3 separate regions of the Homo sapiens genome follow, and all the other regions are linked to region 3. Evidence: fine-mapped expression QTL. A gene starts in region 3. Each other region holds a variant in brackets. All regions are shown on one strand. Distances are between the middles of the regions. Region 1 has its middle 50 kb from the start of SPOCK2. Region 2 overlaps CHST3 (carbohydrate sulfotransferase 3). Region 3 holds the start of CHST3 (carbohydrate sulfotransferase 3).

What was found. PIP is the estimated chance that this variant, and not a neighbour inherited with it, causes the effect.
Region 1: its variant is fine-mapped to the expression of CHST3 in minor salivary gland (GTEx, PIP 0.97).
Region 2: its variant is fine-mapped to the expression of CHST3 in lymphoblastoid cells (GEUVADIS, PIP 0.95).

What each region holds. Positions count from the first base shown.
Region 1 is chr10:72,036,869-72,039,624 of GRCh38, reverse strand. No RefSeq gene overlaps it. Among named protein-coding and RNA genes, the nearest start is that of SPOCK2, 50 kb to the left of the region's middle. The variant A/G (reference allele first, on the strand shown) is at 1,462.
Region 2 is chr10:71,984,363-71,987,118 of GRCh38, reverse strand. The region is part of intron 1 of CHST3 (carbohydrate sulfotransferase 3); the gene reads right to left. Among named protein-coding and RNA genes, the nearest start is that of CHST3, 21 kb to the right of the region's middle. RefSeq lists enhancers at 1,972-2,041, 2,102-2,151. The variant G/A (reference allele first, on the strand shown) is at 1,401.
Region 3 is chr10:71,962,921-71,965,676 of GRCh38, reverse strand. CHST3 (carbohydrate sulfotransferase 3) reads right to left here and starts at 1,282. Exons shown (of 3, transcript NM_004273.5): 1 at 983-1,282.

The DNA.
Region 1 (2,756 bases), 74 kb before region 3:
CACAGCTGTGGAAGACACCTCCTCCTGGGTGGCCGGGAGGAAGTCGAGAGGGGCGCTGTGACAGGGACGTACCTTCTTCAAAGGCTACTATGGGACAGTGGCTGACTACAGATAGGGAAGCCTTGAAACCTCAGCTCCCTTCTCTATAAATACAGATGCACATATTAGCAATTTACCAAGTGAGAAGCTGCTTGGCTTACTATTTGACTGCTTTTTATCTGCGAGGGCGGCATGAGGCAGATGTGCGCGCCTCCATTTTGCAGATGAGGACTGAGTGACAGAGGAGCCCAGTGCCAAGCTTGAGCCCCAACCTGCCATTCTCCAGGCGGGGATGGATGGGCTCCAGAGACTGGGTGGGACCAGGGAGGTCTGAAAGCCTGGGGACAGGGTCTAGCCTCCAACTCTGAAAAATCACATTAGGTCACCAGGGGACAGGGTGCTCTGAGGAGACAAAAACAAGGCCAAACCACTTCCCGGCCGGGTGCTGGAAGTCAACACCAACTCTTTTTGCTCTATAAATAAATTTCATATTTAAATAAATATGGAACAACGTGACCTTTTTTTTTCCTTCTGCAAAAGAAAAGAGCATTTATCCCACCTCCAGAAGCTCATTTCTTCTTTCCAGCTCCTCTGACATCACCCAGGGGCAGCCAGGGAGGAATTTTTTCTTCTGGGATGACTCGATCCCAGCATCAGGCACATCTGGGCGGCGCCTGCTCCACAAGCCACAGACAGGCCCTGTGCCCACGATTCTGCTACAAGTCGTTGTTCAGAACTCAGAGCGGATTTTCCCGTGGAAGCAATATTGCTAGGTGACCGTGATAACCATGACACCATGGACACTCACTTGGAAGCAATCTTGCGTGTGGGTGTTTGGTTCCCAGGCTAGACCAGCAGCCCATTTTGGAGGCAGGAGGGAAAGACAAGGGCTTTGGGGTCAGGTGTGTCCTGGCTGTGTGACCTTTAGAAGTGACTCAACTTCTGAGCGCCTCCCTTCCCCAGTCTGTTGACGCTGGGAGATCGTTCTCCAGGGCCCCTTGCATTCCTGCTTGTCTTGTGACAGCTTTTGTTCTGGATTATCTTTTCAAGGACGTTTGTGTAGTCAACAGCCTAGGAAGTGTACACAGAGTAGCTGAGACAAGTCCCAATCAATTTAGAAAATTTATTTTGCCACGGTTAAGGATGCGTCCTCAGGAGGTCCTGAGGACACATGCCCAAGGTAGTCGGGGCACAGCTTGGTTTTATACATTTTAGGAAAACATGAGACATCAGTCAATGTATGTAAGATGTATATTGGCTGAGTCTGGAAAGGTGGGACAACTCAAAGCAAGGAGGGGGCTTCCAGGTCATAGGGTGGATAAGAGACAAAAGGTTGCATTCTTTTGAGTTTCTGATTAGCTTTTCACTGAATACCCAATTTACAGGAATAGCTACTTGTGCCGTAGTCTGGCTTAGTGAAAC[A/G]ATAGGGCAGAGGAAATAATCAGACCTGCATTTGTCTCCTGTGAGCAGAGGGATGACTCTGAACTCTGTCTGTCCTTTGTCCACAAGGAATTTCCTTGTAGGCAAATTGTGAGGGAGGACAAGGAATTTCCTTGTAGGCAAATTGTGAGGGAGGTATGTAGCTTTGTCTTGGGAGGCAGGTTTGCACTACTCAGTTCCCAGGTTAAGGACCTGCTTGACTTAGTTCCCAGCTTGATTCTTCCCTTTGGCTTAGCGATTTTGGCGTCTCCCTCCAGGGAAGAGGGAAGATTTATTTGTTTGCTTTCCAGGGGAATAAAAACAATGCTTCCCATCAGGGCAAAGATTGGGCAAGTTTGCTGGAAGCCCCCTCCTAAGACTGGGAGTTTTCCAGGTTTGGGGTTCTTCAGCTAAACCCACTGAACATGGGCCCACCTCCAAATCTGCCCCACGAGACAAGGGGAACCAAGGCGAACATGAACTCCTGTTGCCTGTTGTGTTTGAGCAATAAAGCCCTTTGTCTGGGTCCCAGGAGTCTTGCGTCTTCTGCCAGCATCCATGAAACCATGGCAGGCTACCTTGCTAGCCTAAAAGCAGGGTGAAACTCAGACCCTGCAGTTCTTGACGGTCAATTCCATGCTTATAATACTCACCTTGTTGCTGTGAGGGAGATGCCGGGCCGTGCCTTGCCCTTGGTGGGTGGTTAATAAAAGGTGACTGTGGCAGTTTTACTATCAGTGGCCAGGAAGTTAGTTATTTACAAGCCACACAGGATTCCCACTCTGAGTGCCAGTGGTACAACCTGGCCCTAGCCCTGGGATTAGAAATTCCATTCCTTTTGTGGGGTCTGGGCGCCTGGATAGGCTCGCTGCGCCTGGGGGAAGGGCTCCGGAGGGTGAAAATCCTCCTTGGTCACCCCTTCAGCCCCTTCGGGTAACCGCTATAACCCATGTAAAATATATCTTTCTAGACCTTTCCCTGCACATCAGTATGTTTAGAGAATGTATAGCAGTTTGTTTTCATATAAATTATTTATACTGTATGTGTTGTTTTGCAATTTTCATTTTTCACTTAAAAATATTTCAGCCGGGCGCAGTGGCTCACGCTTGTAATCCCAGCACTTTGGGAGGCTGAGGCGGGCGGATCACGAGGTCAGGAGATCGAGACCATCCTGGCTAACATGGTGAAACCCCGTCTCTACTAAAAACACAAAAAAATTAGCCAGGTATGGTGGTGGGCACCTGTAGTCCCAGCTACTTGGGAGGCTGAGGCAGGAGAATGGCATGAACCCGGGAGGT
Region 2 (2,756 bases), 21 kb before region 3:
ACAGAGGAGCCCATCTACACTCGGTCTGCCAGTGGAAACAGAGGTCAATTGTCTAACTGCTCTGAGCGTTGGACAGATGGCCCTGAACTCGGACAGACTTGGAGTGGGTCCCAGCTCTCCCACTTACTCTCTGCTGACGTTGGGTGAGGAATTTAACTTCTCTGAGCTTAGGCTGGCCCCACAGGGTTGTTGTGAGCATCAAGGAAGCTGTGTGAGCTCCGAAAATTGGGAAGATTGCACACAGGCTGGGCATTATTGCTGGTCTGAACAAATGTCAGCCAGAGCCCGTCTATGCCAATGGCACTGTTGGTTGGTATTTCTTGGGTACATCTCTCCCCATGCTGGGCTGCAGGGGAGGGACACTGGCTGATCCACTTCGGGTTTATCTTATAGAACCAGCCCCAGGCGATCTCTGCCTGCTGCAACTATTCCTATCGGTCAAGGGCCCACCTTTCCAGCATTACTTACAGGGACACTCACCTAACATGTCAGGCCTCGGGCCTGGGCACACCTGGACATGGCCATGGCCAAACGGTTTCTCAGCTAAGAGGGCAAGTCAATTTCCACCCCGGGCCAAAGCTGACAGATGGGAAGGGGCTGCCTGGAGCGCCGTATTTGAAAATACGAGTGCTGCGATTGCTCTGTGACATCTATCATGGGTGGAGGATGGCACAGCTATTGTGAATCTGCTGCGGCTGTTTTAGAGGACTGGTTTTCAACTCTGACAGCATAAGAATCATCCAGAGAAGTTTACAAATCACTGAGGCCTGGGTGCCACCTCCAGATTCAGATTGCATTGGTGTGGCCTGGGCATCAAGATTACTTAAAGCTCCTTAGGTGATTCTAACCTAGAATCAGCAAAGATGGAGAGCCACTACTTTTAGAGCACCCAACTTCACTACCCTGGCGCTCTTACAGACAGCGGGAGCTGCTGCCTGCACACACACTAGCTATCAGCAAGGCCAGAGTGGCAGCGGCCTGCTGAATCTCTTGCTAACCAGGGAGGGATGCCAGGAGAACAGGTCTGTGTCCCTTGTTTTACCTACTTAGTAAAAAAAAACAACACTGATACACATACAATAACTTGGATGAATTTCCAGGGAACTGTGCTGAGTGAAAACAGCCAATCACAAAAGGTTACACACTGCATAATTCCATTTATAGAACATTCCTGAAATGACAAAACTGTAAGAATGGAGAACAGACTAGTATTGCCAAGGGTCAAGGAAGGGGTGGGGGCAGGAGGGAAGTGAGTGTAGTTATAAAAGGGCACCACAGGGGATTCTGTATGAAGTCAACATTCTGATTGTGACATTAGGCTAGGCTTTCACAGAATGTTACCATAGGGGGAAGTGGGTAACAGATTCATGAGACCTCTCTGTACAATTTATTAAAATTGC[G/A]TGTGAATCTACTGTTATGTCAAAATGAAACTGTGTAATGAAAAGGAAAAAAAAGAAAAGAAAACTAGCTCCCACAACAGGAGGCAGGGTTTCAAGAGATCTTTGCAAGTTGGAAGTAGAGGTGGGGCAGTAAGATTGAGCAGAAATGGCCTTTCTAGGGCAGAGGAGTGAACTAGTTGGGTTCAAACTGGACCTCAACTGGAGTTTGGCTTTTTGCAGAACCATGAGAAAGTGACCTTCCTGGGATCTATTCATGTGTAGTGATAAGCGTGGGGACTTTCTGAGGGAAAGGCTAAATGAGGATGCTACTCCTCATGGCAGGGGGAGAAAAACAGGGGACAGGATCCTGGAGGGAATAGCATGATATGTGATCCCCCATCAGCTGGACAACATGGTGTGGGTTCTGGTAAGGAGGGGAGCTGGGACTAGCGGCTGCAGGCAGTGAGTCCCATGAGACCATGCAAGGCTTGGTGCCCAAGCAGTGCTGCTACAGGGCCCAAAAAGCTCTGCGCAACCTCAGCGGGTCAGGGGGTCGGCCAAGCATGGCCTTGGGGCGAAGGAGACTGGGGCAACCACGCCAGCTGCGCAGCACAGGCACTCTGGCTGGGAGGCTTGGGACATCTGGGTTATCTTTGAACGGCTCACTGGACTTTGCAAGGGGCAGAGCAAGCTTCAGGCTGCTCTATGGCAATTCTGCGGCAGGAAGGAGGAGAAGAAAGATTTGAAGAACTAAGATGGAAATTTGTAAGAGTGCAAGCTTTTGGGAAAGTACCTAAAGAATCTCTGAGTGACAAAAGCTCACATGAAACAAGTATATTCATTTGCTGAGGACTTGCTCTGGGCCAAGCATGGAACCAGGCACTAGGAACAGGAAGGAAAAGACACAGCCCCTGCCCTAGAGGAGCTGAATAGTAACAGAAGTTAACACAGTGAACAAGGAATTGTTCCAAGTACTTCATGTACATAAATGTACTTAATCTTTGGAAGAACCCTGGATAATGCTTATGGATAATAGTCACCATCCCCATCAAAGGCAAGGGGATGAGAAAACTTACCCTGAGTTAAAGGCAGAGCTGGGATCGGAACACAGGAAGCCTGGCTCCACAGTCCACAAATTCAACCACTATGCTCTGTGTCTGAGCAAGCTGATTTAGCCAGAAGGGAGCAGCTGTACAGCAGTGGACAGATCAGAGTCCTAGTCAGGAACTGATCTTTCAGGACCTGTCACCAACTTGTGGTGTGGCTTTGTGTTAAAGGTGGAGGGTGTCCAGGTTCTTGGTGTCTTGAACACAGAGTTAGACAAAACGCACAAAGCAAGGAAGGGATGAAGGGATTTACTGAGAAAGTGCGCTCCAC
Region 3 (2,756 bases):
CCAGGCACTATGCTAGGCCCAGGACAATCCCCCGTACATCCTGGGGCCCAGCAACACCACGCATCAGAAACCAAACACAACTTCAGGTGCAAGGAAAATAATGAAGGCGTCAGGCCTGCCTTGGTTTCTCCCTAACCTTTTAGGCTTAAATCCCCCCACCTCCCCTTACCCCGTCCACACCCAGGACTGGAATCTGCTCACCCGGTTCCCTTGGAAGTCCCTGGAGGAAGCACATCCGCTGGGGGGAAGGGTCCCTGCTTCCCTGGAAGACTGTCACGGCCACTACCCTTCTGTCTAGCGCAGCAACGGCCTGCCAGCCTCTTCCACGCTGCTCACAGACCCTGGCACGCCGGCTCTGAGTTTATGAATCACTCCCTCCTCTCTCCGGGCCTCGCCTCCGGAAGGGCTTCGCACACTCACACATCACCCAGACACCGAGTTTCCACACCAAATTCGCTCCTGCAGAACTCCGAGAACCGACTGCAACATCTGCTCCCCTTGGTCTCGGGGTTCTGGCCACAAGTTTTCAAAACCCAGGCAGCCTCTCTCCTGCCCGCTGCGCTTTGGGGGCTCCCTCTCCTTGGGGGCTGCGGGGGCAGCAGACAAAGGCCGTGGATGTGACGGAGGGGTGTGAGGACGTGCCTGCTGTAGAGGCCAAATCCCCCGCGCTCCCAGGAATGTGCATTTCGGTGTGTGGCATGTGCCTGGCCGGTGTGGGTGTGCGCAGATCAGCCTGCGCCGTGTGCGGGGTATGAGTGGCGATGAGCTGTGTGTACCTGGCAGGTGTGATCCGGTTGCAGCGGGTTGTGGGTGCCTGCCTGGGCTTTTCCCCGAGCTGGGAACTCCACCTCCCACCGTCCGCTTCGCCCCCTTCTCCCTCCAAAGTCTGGCGCGCGCGCCTGGACGCGGAAGGCGGGGGCTCCCGGCTGGGCGGCCTCCCCCGGGCTGGGCGGCGGTTCCAGGACGCCGGCGCCCCACTTACCCCGGCCGCCGAGACTCCACCGGCGGCCCCGACCCTCCGCGGCTGGGGTCCGGCGCGGGCAGCATCCGCTCGCAACTTCGCTTTCCTCCTGGAAGATCCCGGCAGAAGCGGTTCCGCGGCCCCGGCGCCCGCGCGGCCCGAGCTGTGCGTCTTCTCCGGGGCGGGCCGGAGGGATGGAGGCGCTGCGGGGCCGGTCGGCACGCTGGAAGGGAAGCGGCGCCAGGCGGGCGCCGTCCTGCGCAGCGAGCCTGCGAGAGGTCCTGCCTGGCGCCCTCCCCGCTCAGGCCCGAGCCGGCTAGCGGCGGCGGATTCCTGAACCGCGTCCAAGGCGTCCGGGAGCCCTTCTCCTCCTCCTCCTCCTCTTCCTCACCCCACCCAGCTCCCACCCCTGCGCGCCCGGCAACTTGGGAACCGTTGGCGAAGTTGGCGCTGCTCGGGCCGCGAGCCGGCCGGGCCTCTGGGGGAGGAAGGGGAGGAGAAGGAGGAGCTGGCGGGAGAGGAGAGGAGGGGAGAGAGGGGAGAGAGGGGAGCCGCCCCCGGGGAGCCGCTGTCTCCAGGACCCCTCTGCGGGCCTTTGTTCCGGGCGCTGCCCCTCGGCCCTCCAGTCCCCGGGGACTCGCTTGGGGCCGCTCGGGTATCCACGCTCTCCTGGCGAGGCTGGTGGGTGGAGGCTGCTTGGAGAACCCCCTTGGCTTCTCCGTGCCGGAGCGCCCGGGGCCGTTACGGCCGCCCCCTCCCCCGACCTTTGCCAGGGAGACCCTCTGGCTGCACGGGTTCCCCATCATCTCTGCCCGGAGAGGATCTTCCTGCTCCCCCCTGGGGCAAGTGGGCTGGAGGACGGTTTCCCTGGTTCCAAAGAACAGAGCACCGTCTCCCTGGGCGGCAGCAGGTCCCACATCCGCCCTCCTGCACTTTCCTGCGCCGCCAGCCAGTCCAAGGCTCCCCTAATTCAAGAACTGGGAAACGGGAGGGACAGAGGGTCTTCCCGGCCCGCCAGGGCTGCCTGGCATTATCTTCGGACCCTCCCAGGCAGCTGGGTCTCCGGCCGGGCTGCCAGGCAAGTGGGGTCCCAGTCGCCTCCCGTGCATGGCGTGGTCGGCTGGGCAGCACCGGCTGCGGGGTGCAAAGGCCAGCTTCTCGAGGGATGAGGTAAAGGGCTCAGAACTGGAACACAAACCGAACCTCCCTGTTCCTTTCCGAATCCTGGTGATGGCCCTGTCCCCGAGAAGGCGAGAACGTCTTGGATTCCACTTGCTGGGCATTCCTCCTGGGACTTCCAGTACGTAACGTCATGAGCTAATTCAGGCCTAAGACAGCACTCCTGACATTTAATGGGATAGTATGGGGTTTAGACAATAAGTTATTTCCTGTACAGGAGAAGTAGGAAAATCCAAAAAAGCTAAAACCTGATTATCTACACTTGGCCTCCCTCTGCCATTCTCAGCATTTACAGATGGACAGCAAATAGAGAACCAGATAGAACTAATCCTGACCCTGTTAGGGACAAGTTGCCCCAGGAACCCCCCGCCCCACACACAATGCAGCTGACCCTTACCCTGAATACTCCGAAGCTGCATTCCTGGACCCTTATCTAGGTGCTACAGCAAGGTCACCAGACTTGCTTACAGCCCAACAGGCAGCATGGGGAAGGTCACGAGAAATGTGGATAAACTTAAGTTACACCCTCTTCTAAATTCCTATATTGTAAGCGGTCACGAGATGATATGTGGTAAAGTTAACCGACAACCCCAGGGTCTCTCTCCCCCATATGAAC